Linked DNA regions of Homo sapiens. The protein of the gene in region 1 purifies or fractionates together with the protein of each later gene. This does not show direct contact. Each region holds a gene or a part of one and is shown in the gene's direction. Other genes may lie near its edges. The genes, in order: PSCA and ITGA6.

What was found.
Region 2: the proteins of PSCA (region 1) and ITGA6 purify together in Homo sapiens (co-immunoprecipitation; 2 studies listed by BioGRID and IntAct, with this or other methods). This does not show direct contact.

Annotation. Positions count from the first base shown.
Region 1 is NC_000008.11:142,674,325-142,686,127, forward strand, and holds PSCA (prostate stem cell antigen preproprotein), read left to right. Parts: upstream 1-6,170; 5' UTR 6,171-6,214; coding exon 6,215-6,239; intron 6,240-7,002; coding exon 7,003-7,110; intron 7,111-7,596; coding exon 7,597-7,808; 3' UTR 7,809-8,401; downstream 8,402-11,803. UniProt on the Homo sapiens protein: May be involved in the regulation of cell proliferation. Has a cell-proliferation inhibition activity in vitro. May act as a modulator of nicotinic acetylcholine receptors (nAChRs) activity.
Region 2 is NC_000002.12:172,420,367-172,432,227, forward strand, and holds the start of ITGA6 (integrin alpha-6 isoform b preproprotein), read left to right. Parts: upstream 1-7,219; 5' UTR 7,220-7,422; coding exon 7,423-7,604; intron 7,605-11,861. UniProt on the Homo sapiens protein: Integrin alpha-6/beta-1 (ITGA6:ITGB1) is a receptor for laminin on platelets. Integrin alpha-6/beta-1 (ITGA6:ITGB1) is present in oocytes and is involved in sperm-egg fusion.

The DNA of each region.
Region 1 (11,803 bases):
GACTCCCCTCATCTTCCTAATGAATAACGGCTGGGAATCGTTTCAGTCTAACCTCAGCAGAGCTCAGATCCCCCATCTTCCTAATGAATAACGGCTGGGAATCATTTCAGTCTAACCTCAGCAGAGCGCAGATCCCCTCATCTTCCTCATGCAGTGGTGGCCTTTCGTTAGCTTTACAAAGATGGCTGAGTTTTGGAAAAGGGCTGTTATGCCCAGAAATGACTAAGGGCAGTTTGGAGATTAACTGGCTGTGGGTTAGATCAGATCTCCTTCACCATCACCATTTTCTCACTGTTAAAACTTTTACAAAGGCAGTTTCCAGTGTCTCCTGGGGGCTGGCTCTGAGGACTCCCTTCCCCCAGCCATGCCCCAAGTTCGCAGAGCAGAGCCCCCAGACTATGCCTGGGCCACTGCACCAGCCTGCTTCCCTACTGAGCGGAGCCTCCAGACCATGCCTGGGCCACTACAGCAGCCTGCTTCTGCACTGGCTTCCCCATCTCCACCCACAGTCAGAGTGGCATTTGACAGGGCCAGTCACTCCCCCTGCCCAAATAAGCCTGTGCACTCTGAATACAGCTCAGGTCCTCGCTGGGCCACAAGGCCACGCCGGAGCTAACCCCTCACTGTCCTCTCCGAAGCCCATGGGTCATCCCCCGTGCCTGCTATTCCCTCTGCCTGGAGGTGGGCTTGTATCCGGCAGTGTCCTTTGCTCAGGTGCCGGAGGCCTCAGGTTGGGGCAGTCCCAGCCAGCCCTCCTTCTGGAGGTCTCTGGATGACAGGCCTCTCATAGCAGGGGTGGCTGGGGGTGCTGGTGAGGCTGTGCCCAGCTGGAAGGGAAGGGTGTGCCTTGGGTCTCCTCCCCAGTCTGAGTTCACTCCAGGAAGGGGGAGTGGCAGGAGCAGAGGGTGCAGAGTGGTGGGGGTGGTTCTGAGGGTCATTGGAGGCCAAGGGGCCTGGCTGGTGGGGCAGGGGCTGGGGCAGTGCCCATCTCCACCTTAGTGCCCAGGCAGGAGGGGAGCTGGTTTGGGGCAGGGCCCTGATGACGCCTTTGTGAGAGCCAGGAAAAGGCACCTCCTCTGGGAACACAGGGCCCTGGGGGAGTTAGAGATGGGGAGGGCCTGTGGGCCCCAGCTGGGTGGGCTTGGGGAAGAACGCCTCTGAGGGGCTCCAAGCTGCACAGCCCTCAGGACTTGGTGGCCCCAACACACCCACATTTACACACATGCTTTTGCTTACACAACACACAACCGGTGCACACACCCACACTCACTTGCATTTACACACATGCCACACATTTGCACATTTGATCCACATGCACAGACAAGCATCCTCTCTCACACTCTCACACACACTATGTGGCACACTCCCATGCCCACATAGTTGGCACATACAAACCCTCACAGTCACATATCACACACACACAGCTTGCAAGTCATGGCCTTAATTTCCAGAACCCAAATGGGGGCTTGGCACTGAGTGCCCCCAGCCAACCCATGTGCATCAGTGGGTTTTCCTCCTGATCTGCAAGGGCGTTTTTCCAAAGCAAAGATGCTAAAAACTGACACCAGCGTGGCTTTGCAAGTGACATGCTATCTTTATTTTTTTAATTAATGCTGCATGAAATAAAAAAAATTACACACAGGGATGTGTGTTCCAGCATGGGACCGTGTGGGGCCCCAGAAGGTGGTGGTGGGACTCCCTGCAAGGTGAGTCAGCTCCCAGAAGCCCCAGGGCCTGGTCCGGCTGTCCTGGCCCCGGCCTCATGCCCTGCACTAGGTGGAAGACAGGATCTCCAGGGAACCCGGCTGCTTTGGGCCCATGGCAGTGGGGTGGGTGGGCAGAAGGCCAAGAGCAAACAGGAAAATCTGGAGTCCCTGGAGGCAACTGGCAGAGAAGAGGAAGGAGGCCAAGGGTGAGTCACACTGAAGCCACACTAACTGTTGTTATTGTACATGATTCTGTGGGTCAGGAATTTGAGCATGCTAGAGTCAGATGTTTCACAGTGGAGGACGCTTAGTCATGGGGCATACCAGGCACATGGTGGGACTAGAACCCAGGGCCGCTGGATGGGGGTTCCCAAGGCAGGGTCTCCTGGGACAGGAAGGCTGGTTCCATCCCTGGTGTGACTGCTTACCACCTCAGGGACGGGATCACTTGGTCTCCCAGGACTTGGGTGCTGCTGGTGGGGAGTGGAGATTGGCATGGAACTGGGGTCGGAACTGGGGCCTGATCCCCAAGATGCATGGGGCTCCCCCAGGTGCTCCTACCATTACTCAGGGAACCTTGGATCTCTTCTCAAAGACCAAGTCCATTCTGGCACTGGGGAGGGATCAGAAAGAGAGGAAGAGAAGGAAGAAAATACACTAGTGTGTGATCACCCAGGGGGTTCATTTTGACCCCTGGCAAGATACAGCCGATTTATCAAGACAGGGGAATCACAATAGAGAAAGAGTTTAATTCACACAGAGCCAGCTGACCGGGAGACTGGAGTTTTATTATCACTCACATCAGCCTCTCAGCCCCTGTCCACCGGATGAGGATCTGCAGGAAGCCATGCCCCTTGTGGCAGAACTTCCCAGAAAGGAGAACTGCCAGAAGATCCAGGCTCAGTTTAGGCTCAGGGGCTGCATTCAGTGTATGGCCAAAGTGTGAATGACAGGGGACAGGGATTCGCCTGTGACCAGGGTCAAAAATCAGAGGGTGACCACAGTCAGGGTTCATTCTGTGACCAGGATCAGGGCTCAGCCAGTGGCCAGGGCCAGGGCTCAGGGTGGGGCCGTAACCAGGGCTCGTTAGGTAACCAGGATTAGAGTTCAGACTGACCACAGTGAGGGCTCAGTTTTGGGGTGAGGTCAGAACCCAACCTGTGGTCAGGGGTGGGGCTCTAGGAATGTCACAGCCATGGTCTTCCGTATAGGAGCCATGACCACGGGGCCATCCTCAGACCAGCCACACCCTCAGTGCGGCGGATGCTGGGGCTGCGGATTCTGTGGTGGGGATCCTGTGTGTTGCCCCCTCCTTGGCCTGCACCCACTAGAGGCCAGCAGCACCCCTGAGCTGGAATAAGCAGAGATGCCTCCAGACATCACCAAACATTCCCTGGCGGTGCAGAGTCACCCACGTGAGAACCACTGCCTTACAGCAATCACTGTGTATCAAATCAGATCAACAAACACTTACACACCTATAAATATTTGAGGACGGAAAGTTCCAGGCTGGCACCTTGAACACAGAGACAGATAAGAAAACGTCTTGTGCGGGAGTGGCCAGAGTCCGGGCGAGCTGGGGCGGGGGGCGGAGGGAGGATGGGACAGGGGCTGTCAGCCACACACGGAAGCAGTTCATGACTGTATGAGGCCCCTTGTCCTGAGCTTACAGGACATGGGCTGGAGGGCGTGTCCAGAGGGAAAGTTCTGGGTGGGCAGAGTGGGCAAGCAAGGAGTCTGGGGGAGGCTGCAGTCACCCTGCATGGCCTCCAGTAAGTTCCTGTCCCTCTTGGGCTCAGGCTCCTCACTTGCCAGAGAAGAGACAATTTCCATGGAAAAGAGCCCAACCCAGTGGGTTCCAGGGAGGCAGGCAGGAGAGACCTCAGAAGGACAGGGGCTGACCTGGAGCCCCGGGGGAAGCCCAAAGGCAGATTCCTGGTGCCACTGAGTCCCAGGGAGGTCGGGTCTTGCATCGTCCCTGCCCCCATCAGTAGTGTCACCTTGATCCCAGACTCAAGGTGAGACAGTGGGAAGCTGATGTCCCCTGAACACCCCAGAAACATCTACCAGCCTTCCTGGACGGTGCAGGCCTTCCTGGACGGTGCAGACCTGCTGGGAGAGGGTCCGATTCCCCGAGACTTTTCCTGACTGCAACATCCTCACCACCCCCTAAAATGTGCCAGAGCCTTTTCAGGGGCAAAATCGAGGAGAGGAGGTAACAATGAAGGCCGGACAACCATCAGCGGGGACGAGAGAGCGTCAGGGGAGAAGGGGCCGGTCTCCCTCCAGACACACACTCGGCAGCAGGCAGGGCCACGGACCACAGTGGACCTACCAGCTTCCGGCAGGAACAACAGCATACCCAAGAGGGTTGCCAGGCAGAGTTATCTAACTCAGGGTCCATGTACAAAGGCAGGGGTCAGGTTGAAGGAGACAGCAGCGGCCACAAGTCCCCCTCAAAGCCAGCCAGCAGCAGGAAGCCACCAGCCCCTCGGGCTTGCAGGGATGAGGGGGAGAGCACAGTGACCAGAGGCTGGCCAGAACCCGGGGGACAGGAGAAGCCTGGCTGACGGGACCTGGGCCTTCTCTAGAGGGCCATAGCCACTGCCACCACCACCCAGCCACTGGCAGGAGAGCCTGGGCCTGCTCTAGAGGGCCATAGCCACTGCCACCACCACCCAGCCACTGGCAGCAGAGCTTGGGCCTGCTCTAGAGGGTCCTAGCCACTGCTACCACCACCCAGCTGGCTGGCAGGAGAGCCTGGGCCTGCTCTAGAGGACCATAGCTACTGCCACCAACACTCAGCCGGCTGGCAGGAGAGCCTAGGCCTGTACTAGAGGACCATAGCTACTGCCACCAACACTTAGCCAGCTGGCATGAGAGCCTGGGCCTGCTCTAGAGGGCCATAGCCGCTGCCACCACCCACCGCCCAGCTGACTGGCATGAGAGCTTGGGCCTGCTCTAGAGGGCCATAGCCACTGCCACCACCGCCCAGCGGGCTGGGCCTGCTCTAGAGGGCCATAGCCACTGCCACCACCTCCCAGCTGACTGGCAGGAGAGCTGGCCTGAACTTGCCTCTTCCACTCTCTCATCTCCTGCCTGTGGGAGCTGGACCAGCCTCCCAGGACATGGAGCAGGACGGAGAGGGGATCTGGGGCAAACAGAGGCCATACAGCCCTGGGCCTAGCCGCTGCCTCCTGCTACTGCAGAGGCTGCTAAAAGCTGCACTTCCCCGACTCGTTTGCAGCTAAAGTTCCAAGCTGAGGGGGTCACTCAAGGTCCTGAGGGTAAAGCACCTAGCCCAGGGCTCAGCCCACACTGAATGCCCCATAAATGAAGGCCCGTCCAACAGGGTCTCCTCCCCAGGGAGGCTGTCCCCTGTGTCAACAAGAGCCAAACTCTGTAAAATATTTGAAGACATTTATTCTGAGCCAAATATGAGGGACCATGGCCTGTGACACAGCCCCCAGGAGACCCTGAGAACATGTGCCCAAGGTGGTCAGTGCACAGCTTGATGGTACCCATTTTAGGGAGACATGAGACATCAATCAAATATATTGAAGATATACATTGGTTTAGTCCAGAAAGGTGGGCAGCTGGAACTGGGGGCTTCCAGGTTATAGGTGGATTTAAACATCTTCTGGTTGGCAATCGCTTGCAAGAGTTATCAATAGAAAGGAATGTCTGGGTTATACGGGGTTGTGGAGACCAAGGCTTTATCATCAGATGAAGCCTCCAGGTAGCAGGCTTCCGAGACAATAGATGGTAAATGTTTCTCATCAGACTGAAGGCCTGTGTTGATGTTAACGCTGGCTGTTCCAGAGTTCTGAAGGGAGGAGGGATAATGAGGCTATCCAACCCTTTGCTGTCATGGCCTGAACCAGTTTTTCAGGTTAACTTCGGAAAGCCCTTGCCAAGAGGAGGGTTCCACTCAGATGGCTGGGGGGCCTTAGAATGTTACTTTTGGTTTATACCGGAACAGCCCCTGCCCCTGTCCTTTGCAGCACCTGCTAATGATCTGTCAGTGACGCTGTGACCAAGGCTCATCACCCTGCGGGCCGTGGGCCCCAGAGGGCGGCACAGCTTCTATAGGAGCACAGGGCCCAGGGAGGTGCCCTCATCCTTGGCTGGAAGGCCGAGGCCTGGAGGAGTCTGGAGAAAGGGTCTCCCTTGTCTGGCCTTGCACTGTGAGGTGGGGGAGGTGGGAGAGGCATAATCTGGGTCTTGAGGACGTTTCAGCCCTCAGCCCGGGGTGGCTGAGATATGGCCCTGGGTAGGCTCTGTCCTCCAGAGGTGGAAAGAAGGACAAAGGGAGAGGGAGGTGCAGGTCGCTCAGGGAGGAGACTCGGACCTGCCCAGCCCCGGGGCCCTCACTGGCTCCAGGAAACCCGCTGGTGTTGACTGTGGGCAGTCCAGCCTCTCCCCATTTGAGGCCATATAAAGTCACCTGAGGCCCTCTCCACCACAGCCCACCAGTGACCACGAAGGCTGTGCTGCTTGCCCTGTTGATGGCAGGCTTGGCCCTGCAGCCAGGTGAGGCCTTGGCTGGCCCCCAGCAGGGAAGGGAGCAGGGGTGAGCCGGGGAGGCCAGAGGGATACCTGCAGGGCACACGGAGAGGAGGGGAAGGAAGGAGGAAGGGAGAGGAAGGGGGTGAGGCTCTTGCCCTAGCCTCCGCTCCTCCAGGGAAGCTCTTGGCACGACCAGGCAGCGACCTGTTCCCTGCCGTCCCCTGTGACCGGGGCTTGCAGGGGCAGCACGGAGTCACTCTCCTTCACCACCGTGGGGCAGGGCCTGGCTCCTAGGGGGCAGGTAGACAGACTGACGGATGGATGGGCAGAGATGCTGATGAGGAGCTGGGAGACATGGGACAGGAAGCCTCAGGCTAAGAAGTGGTTTTTGGGGCACAAGGGGGAGGTGCTGGGGGTGTCCTGCGAGGACCCGGGGGTCTACATCCGGCCCAGTCCCAGCACTGCAGCTTCCAAGGGTCCCAGGGAGCTGCTCTGCTTGAGGTGGGACCCTCCCGACCCAGGGTCCCGGGTTCAGTCACCCCCACAGCCGCAGCTTCCTCTTCTGAAACACACGGTCACAAAAGCAGCCACCGAGGGACTAAACAGGGCAACATTTCGGAGGCACTGAGCAGGGGGCCGTGAAGATGGGGAGGAGACATTGAGGGTGACAAGAGGGCGCCGAGGACTTCCTCAGGCCACCGCCATGGAGGCCCACCTGCCTGGGAGCCCCCATTCCTGGGGAGTGCTATGGGGCAGCCTCTGAGGCCCCTCCCACTCCACCCCACAGGCACTGCCCTGCTGTGCTACTCCTGCAAAGCCCAGGTGAGCAACGAGGACTGCCTGCAGGTGGAGAACTGCACCCAGCTGGGGGAGCAGTGCTGGACCGCGCGCATCCGTGAGTGGGGGGACGACAGCCGCCAGGCCTAGGTCTCTGCCACTGAACTATTAATCTTTCTGGCCATCTGTCCGCATCTGTGTGCTGTTTTCCTTCCACCTGTCCCCGACCCGTCCCGCACCTGCACCCCCAACAATCACCCAGCATCTGTCCCTCCAGCCATCCTCCTCCATCTGCCACTCCTCCACTCATCTGTCCCTCCCCATCCTCCATCTTCCACTCCTCCACCCATCTGTCCCTCCCCATCCCTGAGCTCACTTACTCACTCACCCCATTTCTGACGCTCAGCGGGTGGTCCATCTGCCTCGGACATCTGGATAGGGCTGAGACCAGGGCCGAGACCAGGCCCTCGCACTGCTTGCAATCCTGAGGCCAGCCCAGGGGGACTCTAGAGCATTAGGCAGGGTGGGACAGGAGGAGGCCTGGGGCAGGTCAGGCAGGTGAGCACACAGGGCAGCCCCATCCCCGGATCCCGCTGCTCCCCAGGCGCAGTTGGCCTCCTGACCGTCATCAGCAAAGGCTGCAGCTTGAACTGCGTGGATGACTCACAGGACTACTACGTGGGCAAGAAGAACATCACGTGCTGTGACACCGACTTGTGCAACGCCAGCGGGGCCCATGCCCTGCAGCCGGCTGCTGCCATCCTTGCGCTGCTCCCTGCACTCGGCCTGCTGCTCTGGGGACCCGGCCAGCTCTAGGCTCTGGGGGGCCCCGCTGCAGCCCACACTGGGTGTGGTGCCCCAGGCCTCTGTGCCACTCCTCACACACCCGGCCCAGTGGGAGCCTGTCCTGGTTCCTGAGGCACATCCTAACGCAAGTCTGACCATGTATGTCTGCGCCCCTGTCCCCCACCCTGACCCTCCCATGGCCCTCTCCAGGACTCCCACCCGGCAGATCGGCTCTATTGACACAGATCCGCCTGCAGATGGCCCCTCCAACCCTCTCTGCTGCTGTTTCCATGGCCCAGCATTCTCCACCCTTAACCCTGTGCTCAGGCACCTCTTCCCCCAGGAAGCCTTCCCTGCCCACCCCATCTATGACTTGAGCCAGGTCTGGTCCGTGGTGTCCCCCGCACCCAGCAGGGGACAGGCACTCAGGAGGGCCCGGTAAAGGCTGAGATGAAGTGGACTGAGTAGAACTGGAGGACAGGAGTCGACGTGAGTTCCTGGGAGTCTCCAGAGATGGGGCCTGGAGGCCTGGAGGAAGGGGCCAGGCCTCACATTCGTGGGGCTCCCTGAATGGCAGCCTCAGCACAGCGTAGGCCCTTAATAAACACCTGTTGGATAAGCCAGAGAGACCCTCTGTCCTTGCACACCCCAGGCGGGCACCGGATCCAGGGCTGTGTCTGGACCAGGGCCCTGGTCACATGGGCTGCAGCCTCCGCCCTAACAGGAGCAAAGCTTGGCCCCTGAAAGGAGGACGTCCCTGCAGAGGGTGGGAGGGCAGTTCCCAGGACTTGCACTTGCTGTGCTGCCTGGAGCATGTGGCCAGACCTCTCTGAGCCTTGCGACTCATCTATGACCCCTCCTTGCTGGGAGGATGGACCCAGAAAGTTCACAGGAAGGAGAGCGTTCCGGGGGGAGGGACTGCTACCATTCAAGCTCCTACCCATCCCCTTGGCCTGATTTGAGCACCCCCATTTTTCAAAATTTGTTTTAGAGCTGCACACCCACCATACAGCATTCAAACACTACAGCAGGGTCCCCGGTGACAGGTGGCCTCCCCCAACCCTGAACCCCAGCGCCTTCCCTCTCTGGGGTGCCCATTACACCTCCAGAGGCTTCTTTCTGGGAGAATCTGTGCCCCGTGAGCATCCCCAGGCCCCTGAGTGGGAGGACACCATCCACACTTGCCTTCTGCGCTCAGGGGAAGCCTTTTGCACACAGCCTGCTTCCCGCCCTAGGGCTAGGGGTGCAGCCTGTGACCTGGGTGGGGACCTGCTCAGGGTGAGGCCTCCAAGGGTGTTAGGGGTGGGGCTCGGGGGGCGGTTTCAGAGAAGAGGAGACAGAGGCTCAGGAAAGGGAACGGGTCTGTTGCCCACATCCCATACCGAGCCAGGATTGGAACCCTGGCCTGGAGCTCTGAGGGTGGGTCATGGAGCAGACAGTGGGCAGAGCTGTGCTGGAAAGAGCCAGGCCTCCCGTCTGACATGTGACTTCACGGGGAGACCTCCCTCCTGAACACTGGGGGCCCAGGGTGGCATTGTCAGCAGGGTGCAGCTCCCCAGGCCAGCATCTGAGTGACCCTGGGCACTGGTCACACCCTCCCCGCCTCGCCTACACCCAGCCCAGCCTGCCCGGCTTCCATGGTGAGCTCTGGGCTTCCATGGTGAGCTCTGCCCAACACCTACCCACCCTCCCAGGCCCAAGGCACACTCAGACCTGCCTTGGCCCAGGGCCTGAGTCCAGAGTTGAGGGCTAGGCCATTGTTTTCTGGGAGGGCCCTGCAGACCTGGGAGCCCGCACAGAACTCTCCACCCCTCAGGGCTCAGGTGCAGGAACTGGGGCCTGAGGCTCAGGCAGGTGCTTCTGGCCACACTGTGTCTCCTGAAGCTGCCGGCCCGGGCTTGCTGACCTGCTCTGGGGAGCATCAAGGACGCTGAGTGAGGGAGGCTGGTGCCCTGCCTGGCTCCATCCACTTAGCACACAGTTATCTAACCCTTGGTATGGTATGTTCCACTGCTGTTTCAGTTGCTCCTGGTCACCCTGGTGATAAAAACTGGGAGAAAAAAAGGAAAGCAAGGAAAAAGGATCCAGAATGCTGAGATGGCCAGGGAGGTGGTCTGGAGGCCTGCAGTGCAGAGGCAGGTGCCTCAGTGATAAGAGCGGCTGTCCTCACTGAACAGGACTCAGCCCACTCCAGTGCCCACACAGCAGCCCCTACCCCCTGGTGGAAGGGGGTCCTTCTCCCTGGGGCTTAGGTTCAGAGACACAAGGCAGCGTGCTCCAGGGCTAGGGCCCATCCACATCGGGCTGGGGGTGTCCAGAACAGAGCAAGACAGGACCCTCACACCCTGTTCCCCAGAATTCCTCGCATTGGAATACCTTGGACCAGGTGAGGAGAAGAAGGGCAAGGATGCGGGAGGCCTCTCTGGACTCTCGATGCCAGGGCCAGCCTGAAACCTGTGGCCCCCTTTGACCTCCTGAGCTGTCCCTCAGGTCACGGGGCCTCTGAGCTAAGGGCCTGTGAGGATGCCCCGCCCTGCCCCTCCCTCACACCATGAGGATGGGGCAGGAACCTGCTCTGGCCACGTGGCACATGGGGGACAGAGGTCCTCCCTGTCCTGCTGCCTCCTCAAAGGACAGACGGCTGACCTCTCCAAGGGCAAGGACCAGCCAGGGAGGGCCACCTGCACCAACAGTGCAGGTCGCAGCCCTGGTGCACTCAGGCTCCAGAGGTTGCCTATTCACTCAGGGCCCCACGGCTCCATCTGGACTAGAACCTGCACCTCCCTGTCTTCCCACTTCGCCTCATCTTTAGAAATGATAGAAAAACAAAAAAGAAAAAAGTGCAGAACTCAAATCCCTAAACCCTAGCATAATACCTGCCAGCATTTCATAGCCGTTGGGACGTTTCCTATTGTAATCTAGAAGACACAAAGTTTACCAAGAAGATAAACAAGCAAGGACTGACAATTAGTAATAACAAGATAGCTAACAAAAGGTCCTAGGAAGGGCAGAAGCAAGTGAGGCTCAGGAGGCTGCTTCCAATGGTTGACCAGATACAGTGGAGATCAGAGCCTTGGCTATATTTATGCAACCGGGCAGCTCAGGAGGCTGCTTCCAATGGTTGAGCAGATACAGTGGAGATCAGAGCCTTGGCTATATTTATGCAACCGGGCAGCTCAGGAGGCTGCTTCCAATGGTTGACCAGATACAGTGGAGATCAGAGCCTTGGCTATATTTATGCAACCGGGCAGCTCAGGAGGCTGCTTCCAATGGTTGAGCAGATACAGTGGAGATCAGAGCCTTGGCTATATTTATGCAACCGGGCAGCTCAGGAGGCTGCTTCCAATGGTTGACCAGATACAGTGGAGATCAGAGCCTTGGCTATATTTATGCAACCGGGCAGCTCAGGAGGCTGCTTCCAATGGTTGACCAGATACAGTGGAGATCAGAGCCTTGGCTATATTTATGCAACCGGGCAGCTTGCTCATACATTTTACGCGCATTTTCTTCTATTTGACCTGAGGTGTTTACATAAATGCGACAGGTTTTATTGATTATAGCGCACATTTTCCTTTGTTCAAGCAATAATTAATCTCATGCTAATCTATCATCCATTATTGTATCTGCAAAGGAATCAAGGGAGAGTTTTAATGTATCTAAAGTGTCTCCTGTTTTATGAGACAGTGCATAGAATGAAGAAGTAAAGTTTTGAAGAGTTGCCTCATGATAGGCAAATTTTCCCTATGGGGTCAGTAAGCCAATGGCAGCCTCAACCCCAGCCAATATAAGGCGAATTGCCCGCTTAGCTCTCAGGTAAGTGATGTTATATAATTGTATATTACAGGGCTTTGCCTGTCTTATTGTACATTGACCCCGAACCAGATGTTATTGATACACTGGTAACCATTGGGTTCATGATCCCAAATGAGAGACAAGTTATTTATACCTGATTGAATAGGTGACCACATGGCCATAGGTATCTACTGGGGGTGCAAACCTGTATGGGATGGGAGTTATTAAGGAGG
Region 2 (11,861 bases), on another chromosome or scaffold:
CATGTGTTTATGCCTGAACTTCCCAACCTAACTGACAACGTGTTACTGGTGTAACACGTTTTTTTCCCCACCAGAAAACACATTGGCTGAAGATCACACTTTACAAACTGCTACAGTTCCTTGTTTGGGAAGCAGGAGATTTGGTCTCCATGGAGAATTTCTCTGCCAAGGCTGAAGAAGGGTTCAATGGAGTGGTCTGGGTTATGAAATCAGAAGTCGGGAAATCCCAAATTTTAATTTGGTCAGAGAGACTGACATTCTTTTTAGGAAAAGTCCCTGCTTTAGTGTCTCCAGACATAAAATTAGGACACTGGCTTTTGCTTTGTGGAGATGCACTGACTTTAGGGTTTGAAAAGATTTTTGAACATGAAATGTGATATAAGTATCTGTGAACCCATTTTTCTCCTTTTTCACCAGGGAAAGTTCAGAAATATGTTGTATAATGCAGAAACGTTTGGCCCTTCACTTTTGGGCATGTGATCTGGGACAACAAAGCCATTGCAATAGGGACATTCTTGGCTATTAGGTGGTTCAGATTTCTACGTTCTTTTCCTCCTTTCTTTGTTATTTGTTCTATAGAGTAGTGTGTTCACAGGGCAGAATTTATTGCATTGCTTCAAATGTTTTGTTAATGTGCCATAAGAAGGGACCTGTTAAATATAGTGACTACTTTTCACCTTCCAATGACTTGCTTTCCAGATTCAAAAATGTTGAAGAAATTTTAAAGTTCAAGATTTGATTTCCCTATCAAGTGACATGTCCTCATAACTATCCTGTCAGCTTATTTTAAGTAGTATAAGCTGCTTTAATATTAGCAGCAAGATGTATTCAAGAAGATGAAGCTCCAAACAAAATAATGATAAGTTGGCTGTGATTTTGGATAATTCATAGTGCTAACTTTCTCTTTGGCTGAGCAGGTTGTGATAAGGACGTGTTCAGTAATGTCCCTGTGCTTTTGTCTCTTTATTCTCCCCAGGCCTCCTAGCTAGCTTGTCATCTGAACTGTTTGTCTCTTCTGAAGTTCCGGCGGACGCAGAGTTTAGGACCCACTCTTACTTCTCCAAATCCTGGCAAAAGACAGAAATGGTTCAGACCCAGAGTGAAGCACAAACTTGTTTCTATGCAGACCTTGGCATCAGGAAACTATCATATGACAGAGATTATAGATGGCTCTTTAACAACATGGGTTTGAACCACAGGGGTCCACTTACACATGGATTTTTTTAAAAAAAAAACTCTCAGATTGAAAATACAGTATTTGCGGGATGTGAACCTGGTGAATGTGGAGTACCGACTTTGTCTATATGTGGATTTTCAGGGCTGACTTCAGGATTTGAGTATGCATGGATTTTGGTTATGTGCAGGGGTCCTGGAACCAATCCCTTGTGTATACTGAGGGACGACTATATTTGCCAAGCTATAACGATAAGGAATGGTTTATGCTGACCATTTAAATGACGCAAATATGGGGCACAAGTGACCTCATTTGCATATTGCCTCTCCCTATGTTTAATCTCCATTATTTGAAGTCCTCTCTTGTTTTATTTTCTAGTATACTTTCTTCACCTACATTTTCACAGCTACTATTTTATTTCAGCGTGCATTTAATAGTAGATATTGTACTATATGCTTCACTTATATAATCTCACTTAATCCTTATAACAACCTGATGAGGTAAGAATTCTGGCTATTTTACAGATTAGAAAATTGAGTCCTAGGCCAGGGGAGGTGGCTCATGCCTGTAATCCCAGCACTTTGGGAGGCCAAGGCGGGCAGATCACGAGGTCGGGATTTCGAGACCAGCCTGACAAACATGGTGAAACCCCGTCTCTACTAAAAATACAAAAATTAGCTGGGCATGGTGGCATGTGCCTGTAATCCCAGCTGCTTAGGAGGCTGAGGCAGGAGAATCGCTTGAACCCGGGAGGCAGAGGTTGCAGTGAGCTGAGATTGCACCACTGCACTCCAGCCTGGGCGACAGAGCGAGATTCACTCTAAAAAAAACAAATTGAGTCCTAAAGAAGTTGGGTAACTTGCTCCAGGCCCTCAGCCGGGAAGAAGGTGAGGCTAAGCTGCCTTCCATGAGTGTTTGCCTTAATCTCACCTGATACACTCCACAGATCACTGGCTTAAGTCCTAACTCAAAATCAGCCTTTCCCCCCACCCCACCAACACAGGAGATATTTTTATAGAAAGCAATGAATTTTTTTCTTTAAAGAACTTAATTTTAAAATGTCTACCCCATGTTTGGTCTTTCAAGAGTGCATTGCGTGTGGCATGAGATGTACATAGCTTCATGTTTGTTTCTAATGAAGGTGGGGATGGAAAACCAAATTTGTCAGGTGGGGATTTCACCCCAGCCTTATGACTCAGTTTTAGATTTAACTTGATTCATTTAAGGTTGGAGTTTATTTCTGGCTGGCAAAATATGGCTTCCTGGCTTAGAAAAATTCCCTCAAAACAAACTTGAAAAAAGTTTGCCCACCTAAAATGGCAACGTGAAACACTCTACATTTTAATGAGCTCATTGTAAGTGAATTAGAAACATTCAAATGCAATTTACTTCAAAATAGATCTAGGTGTTAAAATAAGGAACAGCTGGCAGTATGGAGTCTCCTGATCCCAACCAAAGGCAGGTTTGCCCCTATTAAATGGTCTGTGACTTAGAGCGAATAAAATGTCACTTTTTTTTTTAAACACAAAAGCATTAAGTTTCAGTGTCGAAGAGAAAACTCTGAACACTAATATAAAAAGACAAATAAAAAAACAGTATGGGAAAACTCTGTTTCTTTCTCTGGAACAAAAAATCTGCCATTGAATAGTAGAATCCCTAGTCAGAACAGTTTATTAAGTTTAGTTCACGAAACTATATTGTGGTCAATGCATAGCTCATAAAAGCCGTATCTTGAAAGACTGTACACAGGTGGGAGCTCTGGTTTTGATGCAACATTCTAAGTGCTTTAGATAACATCAACTCTACTAATTCTTAAGAGAAAGCAACTACTGAGGGGTAGATGACATGTTGTTATTTCCGGTTTACAGCTGGGAAAACGGAGACATGGAGAGATTAAATGGCCTTGTGGCTAGCGTGGAGCAGAGGCAGGATCCGTAATAAGGAACTTGGGTTCCAGAGACCATGTGCTACCCACTCTCATGGATGGCCTCACATTAAAGGGCTCCAGGAAATATGTAAAACTGTTGGGATAATGTAACCACAGAAAGAGAATAAAGAGATGTTTTCATTAACTAGTTTCTTGAGACGGAGTCTTGCTCTGTTGCCCAGGCTGGAGTGCAGTGGTGCAATCTCGGCTCAATGCAACCTCTGCCTCCCGGGTTCAAGCGATTCTCCTGCCTCAGCATCCTGAGTAGCTGAAATTACGGCACCTCCACCACGCCCGGCTCATTTTTGTATTTTTAGTAGAGATGGGGTTTCGCCAAGTTGGCCAGGCTGGTCTCGAACTCCTGACTTCAGGTGATCTGCCTGCCTCAGCCTCCAGAAGTGCTGGGATTACAGGCATGAGCCACCACGTCCGGCCTAATAACTAGTTTTTATGTTGCATGAAAAAAGCAAATATATTCTCTGCTGTTAGTGATGATGAAGTCAATATAACAGTGAACATGATAACAAAATGATTAAAGTAGGTCTCAGGGAATGGAAAATATATTAGGTATGACATGGATTCTTCAGACTTCTCCATAAATGACCAATATTCTAAAATTATCTTGAAAGCTCTTCTACAGAGGGTGGGATATAGTACAAATAAATAATTTTATTTTGAAAAGTGTACTGGTAAAACATAAGAATTCAAAAGCTCTCACCTGAGCAAATGCCTCTATGCATAGCTTTCACTGCCTTTTAATTAAAAATGTTCAGTTTATAGAAGTTTCTTCTGTGATGTGTTATTTCGTTTTCTAATCGGCCCTTTTTTTTTTTTTTTAGACACGGTTCTGCCAGTTAACTGGATTTGTAGGGCCCTTCTTGCACTGTGCATGTCTTGTTTTCATAGGCATGTGTGCTAGCACACACACACACATGCCCCATGCCCTATATACTCAGCACACCTTTATCACCAAGCTATCTCTCTCCCTTTGGTTCCAGACAAGTATCTTCCTGTCCCAGATTTTGTTTTCCCCATTAAAACTGTGTACTCCCTCCCCAGGTCTTTAATTTTTAGGGCTCTGAATTCTTTTATTCCTTTGGCCCCAGAGATTGATGTGTCCTCAGTGGATCCAGAATGACCTCTAAACCTCCTTTTTGTAAGACACTTTTGTAAAACACCCAACTCTGTTTTACAATGGAAATAACAACTGAGTCACAAAACTTGATTCTTTTTTTTTTTTGAGTCAGAGTCTTGCTCTGTCACCTAGTCTGGAGTGCAGTGGTGCAATCTTGGCTTACTGCAACCTCTGTCTCCCCATTTCAAGTGAGTCTTGAGCCTTGGCCTCCCGAGTAGCTGGGATTAGAGGTGCCCATCATTAGACCCAGCTAATTTTTGTATTTTTAGTAGAGACGGGGTGGTGGGGTTGGGTGGGGGGGAGTCTCACCATTTTGGCCAGGCTGGTCTCGAACCCTTGACCTCAGGTGATCCTCCCACCTCGCCTCCCAAAGTGCCAGGATTATAGGCGTGAGCCACTGTGCCTGGCCAAAACTTGATGGTTATAGTCAGAAGGAGCTGACAATCTTCAAATAAATTATGTCAAGAGTGAGGGTTTGACTCAACTTCAAGTATCTTCGGCATCTATGTTGAGAGTGAGAGTTTGACTCAACTTCAAGTAGGTAGGAGACAGGTGGCAGGTAGGAGCACTGAGCTAATAAGTTTTCCATTTGCGATGGGCACTTGACATATTCCAGAACAAGACTCCCAGCCTTGTTTTTCTTTATCTGAACCTCTTCCCACACAAGCATAATTTGCTTCAGTAGTGCTATACATGTAGTTGTGATATTTAAATTTAATATTATTTAGAATTTCAATTTGAGCACAATCTGTGTTTGGGATAAAGTAAATAACTCTGGCCATTCATACATCATCCACTAAACACATCTTGGGAAGACAGGAATCAATGGTCCACAGAATTACTCTTAGAAGCAAGGGGTGATATTCAGAATAGTTAACAGCTGGTGTGACATGGGGATATCCAAGCAGAGGGAGCCCTTGCTGCATCAGGGCTTAAGGGCTTAAACTTTCATTTGCCAGGTTGTGAGGAAGTTGCTTAGTCCTAGGAAAATGGGCAGGGCAGGGATGGTTGCCTGTGAGGAACTAAGGGCAGCAGCTTTTATCAACCAATTCAGAATATTTCAGTAACCATTACAGCCAAATCACCAGCTCCTGGCTGAGTACACTCTGCAGTGAGGTTCATTATACTATGCCTATAATAGTCTGGACCCCATCTCTCTGGAATAGTACATATTTTACACGAAGGGAAAAGGCTAACTTGCAACTTATTTGCATGAAAAATCACGTTGCAAGTACTTCTTAGTTTACTAGATTGTCTCCAATAGTTTCTCAACCTTATCAAGATATATTTGTTAAAACTGTGTGCTCTCCAAAATCATCTACTGAATTTAAACCACTGCACCCCACTTTGGACTATAATTGACTGGAGTTACTGATTGGAAAGGAAGTGGTACACACCCCTAATATACTGACGGACTTACTCTGACAGCTGCTACCACCTGTGGGGACCCTTGATGATGTTCACGCAGCTTTTCTGAGTGGCACATGCTGTTCTCTTGAATACTCCTTGAGGTGAAGAAGAGGCCACCCCTACCCCTATGCACACACAGCTCCTGCTCTTTCCTGGGGCTGCACCCTGCTTGTATTTCCAATGCAGGGATGTCAGATTCCAAAGAGGGCTCCCCAAGGCATTCCAGAAGGCTTCAGGCCAGCACGTCCCAACCTTTTCATGCCATGGGACCCCTTTGGCAGGCTGCTGAAAACCATGGGGTTCTTCTCAGAATAAGGGTTTTAAATACATAAAAGAAACCACAAGAGGTTACAAAAAAAGCCAATAATATTGAAATGTAGCTAACAAAATGTTTTTAAAAATTTGTGCTAGAGCAATATATATGCTTCATTATTGACATATAATATCTGGCTGATTGTCTAATAACTACTGTTATTTGAGATACTTGCAACAACTGTGATGTGATGTAAAAACCTATGGTTTCTAGTGATTACTAAGTCATAAATACTTATCCTACTGCTACTGTAGTTTGTTGTCTACGTTCATAATGGCAAAACGTGCTAAATGTCAGAGGTTGGTGAAAATTAAGACGTAAATTTTTTCTCATCCAAGTTCACAGTACTCTTGAATTAATTACCTCTCCTCGGGTTAAGAACCCCTGCAGGATAAGGTTGCCCCTAGGGCCAACACCTCACTGGAGCCCCGCCTCATGTCCTGGAGGCAGGAGCCTTCATGCCACCTACACAGAACTCGGAGCTGTCTCTTGGCCCAGCAGTTCTCCCCACAACTAGTTCTGAAAGTCCGGGGCTAGGAAAGAACGGCATCGTCGCCTGAGCTCCTGGCGCCACTTTAAACAACCCATCCTTGACTTGCGTGACTTCTTCCACAAGCTCTCCTGGTCACCTGGGCAAAATCCTAGGTGATCTGGGGACAAGGCGGAACTTCGGTTTTCTGATCTGCAAAAAGAAACACCTACCTCATAGGACTGTTAGGATGAATTGAGGTAATGGCTGGGTTGTGTACATTATACAGCACTATCAAGGTGTGCGCTGTGATCATTTTTGAGGGTTGTTAGGTGTTTGAGGACCCAGAACAGTCTACACAGCTGTAGTCCCCAAGTGTTGGGCACGCCTTAAGCGCTCCATAAACACCTGTAGAAATGAATGAATGACGTATGCATCTGCACGTGGGCCCACATCTGCAAGAACAGGCTGCTCAGGCCATGAGGCCCGGTGCATCACCTGCACTTCTCTTTATAACGGGTAGTAAAGTCTCCCTCGCTCTGTGCTACTCGGCAACCACAATTCTGTCCACAGAGGGCGGCGCAGTGGGGCTGCTTCGCCGCGAGCTCGCCTCCGGGGCTCCCACGTCGTGGCTTCCGGGCAGGTACCGGGCAGCTGGAGACGCCAGAGCCGGCGGGTAAGGTGCGGGCGGTGCGCCGGGCCGCGGGCGCGCAAGGAGGGGCGAGAGGGTGGGGAGGGGCGGGGCCGGCGTCCTCGTCACTTGATAAAACGCCTGCGAGTCTCCAGAGAACAACGGGCTCATTCAGCGGTCGCGAGCTGCCCGCGAGGGGGAGCGGCCGGACGGAGAGCGCGACCCGTCCCGGGGGTGGGGCCGGGCGCAGCGGCGAGAGGAGGCGAAGGTGGCTGCGGTAGCAGCAGCGCGGCAGCCTCGGACCCAGCCCGGAGCGCAGGGCGGCCGCTGCAGGTCCCCGCTCCCCTCCCCGTGCGTCCGCCCATGGCCGCCGCCGGGCAGCTGTGCTTGCTCTACCTGTCGGCGGGGCTCCTGTCCCGGCTCGGCGCAGCCTTCAACTTGGACACTCGGGAGGACAACGTGATCCGGAAATATGGAGACCCCGGGAGCCTCTTCGGCTTCTCGCTGGCCATGCACTGGCAACTGCAGCCCGAGGACAAGCGGCTGTGAGTTCCCAGACCCTTCCCACCCCCACTGGGGCGCCGGCCTGCGCGCGAGTTGAGGCGAGGGCGCGCCCTGTTCCCGCCGGCCCCGGGGAGTAGTTGGCCCGTGGGTCGCGCCCGGGCCGGCCGAGGCGCACCCAGCGCCCAGCGCGCTCGGCTCCCCGCCCTGACCCGCCCCGCGCGGCGCCTCCCTCCATTCAGCTCGGGAAGGAGGAGAACCCGAGGGCTAGGCTGGGCCCCGGGAGAGTTTACTTTTTTTTCTGTTTTAAACAAAGTGCTTTCCGCCGGTTCTTCCCTCCGGGCGTGTTTGCTGGGACCCCGGCAGGTGGCACGCTTTGCTGAGCTTCACGTGTGTGTTTGGGGCTGGGGTGGCGTTCAGGGTCACCGCAGCGCTGCTGTGGGTTTGCAGGGAGCGTAGTTCCAGGATGGTCTAGGCCTTTCCCAAACTCACGGTGCACCCCGTCTCCCCCGCAGACTGGCGCGCCCCGCACAAGTTGGAAAGCCACTTTCCATGTGTCCTGCATGACTTTCTCAGCAAGGCGGGGGCGCTCCTTAGGAGATACTTTTACATGCCTTTGAAAAAAAAAAAAAAAAAGATGGGGGTGGGGGCGGGAATTAACCAAACACCTGTTCGCTGGACTAGATCAGCTGAGAAAACAAGTCTGAGTGATGTGCCCAGCCCCCAAAGTACTCGGCCGCACCCGAGACCCGCTCGGCTCCTGCGTTGGGCGGGCACAGCCAAGGGGTTAAAGCAAAATGTCCGATCTGAGCCTGGACTTTGCAAACAAGGTTTGTAAGGGACAACCCCCCACCGTAGCGGTAAACCTCCCAGGAGAAAGAGGAGACCGGCACTACTGGCCTCTCCTTTTATTTCTTAAACAGTGTTTGGTTCCCACATGATCGGCTATTTAAGCCGGAGAGGGTATTTTGGCGCTTAGTCGCCTTAATCGCTATGGGGTTGCATTCTTCATCTGTGCTACTGAAAAATAGGCTGTAGCAACAAAAGGTCTCCCCTCCCCACCCAGGCCTTGAGTTGAACTAAGGACCTTCCAGGACCAACAGACCGGAGAAAGCAAAGTGCAGCCACAGTGAAGAGATTTTGTGTTTAGGAGAGGCGAATGGGATTTTAGAACTGGAGGAAACCTCTTGATTTCAGCGGTTAACAACTTTGGAATTCGTGAATGTTGCAGCCCCTGAATTTTAGTCAGTTTTTTTTTTTTTCTGATAACACCTGCTAGGTGAAGCACAGAAATTAGCTGGGGGTGGGGAGGCTCTAGGAGGGTGGTCTGAGGCTATATGCCTGGCCAGCTGCTTATACTCTGCTTTCTCTCAGAAATAATTGTTGTTAAGCTGTAAATCTGAAATGAAAGGTTCCTGTTAACTCAGTTAATAGATGACGTTTATTGTCTCGGAATACTTGGTGTGTAGAATTTGAGCTTGTTAGTGCAGAAATGATTGTGGGCCAGCAGAGGGAATTCATTCTCCTGGGCATTCTCTCTCTGCACCAGAGCCCCACTGAAACCGGTGGCTTCCTTGAAATACTTGTTCAAGCAAAAAGTGTGAAGGGAAAGTACTGGGACAAGAAATATCCTGGCAGTGGAGATTTGCGAAACGTGACTTTGCCAGGAATCTGTGTCGTGAAGGTTAGCAGCATGCTTGCTAAAACTTGTTACTGCTGCTGGGCTTCTCTGGTATTAGAGCTGAGGCAACTCCTCCCGAGGTAAGGATAAGCCTGCAATGGGGTCTGATGCCTTCTAGGAAAGCTCTTCTTAGCAGCTGACAGAGGGGAGAGGCCCCGTATAAGGAGACTGTATGTTTCCTAGAGTCCAAAGGCAGTGACCACACTTTAAAGAGGCTGTGGTTTATGTCACGTGCTGCCCACCTCCATGCTTTTGTAAAGCTTTATTCCAGCTTCAGGAATAGCATTGGTCTTCCCAGGAGAACCAGCACACACAGGCCATAGCACAGGTCAGTTGTCAACCTTTGACAGTAAAGAATGTGGGTGTAAATGGCAGAGCCAGTAAGACTGAGAAAACTTCTGGACCAGCTTCCTAAACTCTATGGAAAAACTCAGTGGGGGTCTTTCAGGGACCTGGTGGGAGAGAGACCTAAGCTGAGATTCCTTCTCGGCCTTTTATTAGCAGCTGTTAATTTACTTTGAGCTTTAATTTCTTTATCTGTAAAATGGAGATATTACTGCTTACTGGGGTTATTATGAGGATTAAGAGATAATATGCAAAGTGCTTAATGCCTGTCTGGCATGGGTACTTGCTGACTAAATGGTAGCTGTTAATGATCATTTAAAAAGCAGTAATTGTGTACCTACTGTGTGTCAGGTACCTTACAAGGTGTCTTAAACATTCTGTGATTCTAAGATTGCCTGAGAGTAAAGCCAAAGGTGGTTGTTTTTGGGTAATGATATTTTAAACTCAGTCATATTTATGAAACCCATGTTCAAAGCAACTTAACTTTAATAGGTCTTAATTAGACTTATAACAAAAGTGAGTTTAATGAACAGAGGACTTTGAGGAAGGAGAAGTAAAATATCAGATGCATGGGACGGTCAGATAAAAGCACGATCATAGAAGACCTATCATAAATGTTTGTAGTTCAAATTTTCTATAGTGCCTTTAACTATTCAGTCACATTTTAAACTCCAGTTATGACTTTTGCAGAATAATATTGTGTCAGAGAGCCCCAAAACATGTCGGGTGTTCCTAAAGCTTTGGAGACTATAAAATTGAAGTAGATACCATAAACTTCATCCAGGTTTTCAGGCTGTATATTAAAGAAGTTTCGGACTCCAAAAGATTACTCAATGGTCAGCCAAGTTGGTCCGCCGAGTGACTGAGGTCAGGGTCTGAGCACCTTGGACTCTTTAATTTCTCTTAGGTAGTTAAGATTGAGTCATTCCCAGAGGTGGAAGGTATGTGATGATGACTGTGGGTATATCCAGCCTATGAATCATCACTCTTAGCTCTTCTGGGAAGAGATGGATCTATATATGATCACAGGGAAGAACCTAGAAGAAGGAGATCTATAAGAGATAGTCTCATGAAGTCATTTTGGATTTCTGCCAACCCTCATTTTCTTCTTTATGGGGTCTCTCTCTCTGACCACCACTGTCTTCCAGAAATGCTCCAGGCCCGCGGTCTGTTCTGTTCTGACCCTTACTAGGTTTGTTCTTGACTTTTCTCAGACTTGTCATGTTCCATCTCTTAAAATCATATTTTCTGAACTAGAGATCATCTAGTCCAACTGCCTCTTTTTACAGATGAAGAAACTGAAGCTGAAAGTTCAGCTTGAGCAGAATCTTAACAGAATGTGGATTTGAATCTCTGACCCATGCTCATGCCATTTTTAAATGGAAAAGCCAGAAATGTTCTTCAGACCTAGAGAAATCGGCAAGCATCTGAATTTTGGAAGTGTACTATATTGTGTTGATTTATCAAACTGCTTCCCATATGCATAGGTCAGGGCTATCTATTTAAATATTGGTGCCTGGACTCTTACTATTGACTCTATTCCAGCTGGCCTTGGAACAAGTTCTGGGTCCGTCCTTCTTTGCCTGCCTCCACCCCATTCCCTTCTGAAAAAGCCCAGTGAAGTGTGGCTGTAGCTAGCCAAGAATCAGAGCTGTATTCAGGATGTGTACCTAAGCACTTGCTTCCTTGCATTTATTCACTCGGAGTGCCATGTGGCCCAGGGCCATCTTCCAGGGATTGCTGGGTCACCTTGAATGCTAAGAGTAGAGAAAAAGCCAAAACGGGCAGCGAGACTTACAGGAAGTCTTAGGACTCTGCAAGAAAGCAGAAATAGGCAAGTTTAATTTTAACACAGGCTGGTGTGAGACCAAGTAATGACAGGGTTGGGGAAAAAAAGGGTCAAAGTATTTATATGGTATAAATAATTTGTTGGGGAAGTCAGGATAAATGCTTATATAAAAGGATTCCTTTATTATAAAGAAGTGGTTATTCTGTGTTCTCAGTTATATAGACTCTCTTAGCATAACAATATATTGAGATTTAATTTAAGCTTTCATAACCAAATAGTACCAGAATTATGGCGCATGGTTTCCTGAAGACCTCGGCTCAACATATTACTGTGGACAGTGAGGCCAGTGAATTATTTGGTATTTTCAAGAGGGACAGTGAGACAAAACAGAAAATACTGTTGTAAGCTTAGATGACAGGGTCAATTGTGCCTGAAACACTGATTTAGTGCTGAATCAGCCCATTTTAAGAATATAATCATAGCTTA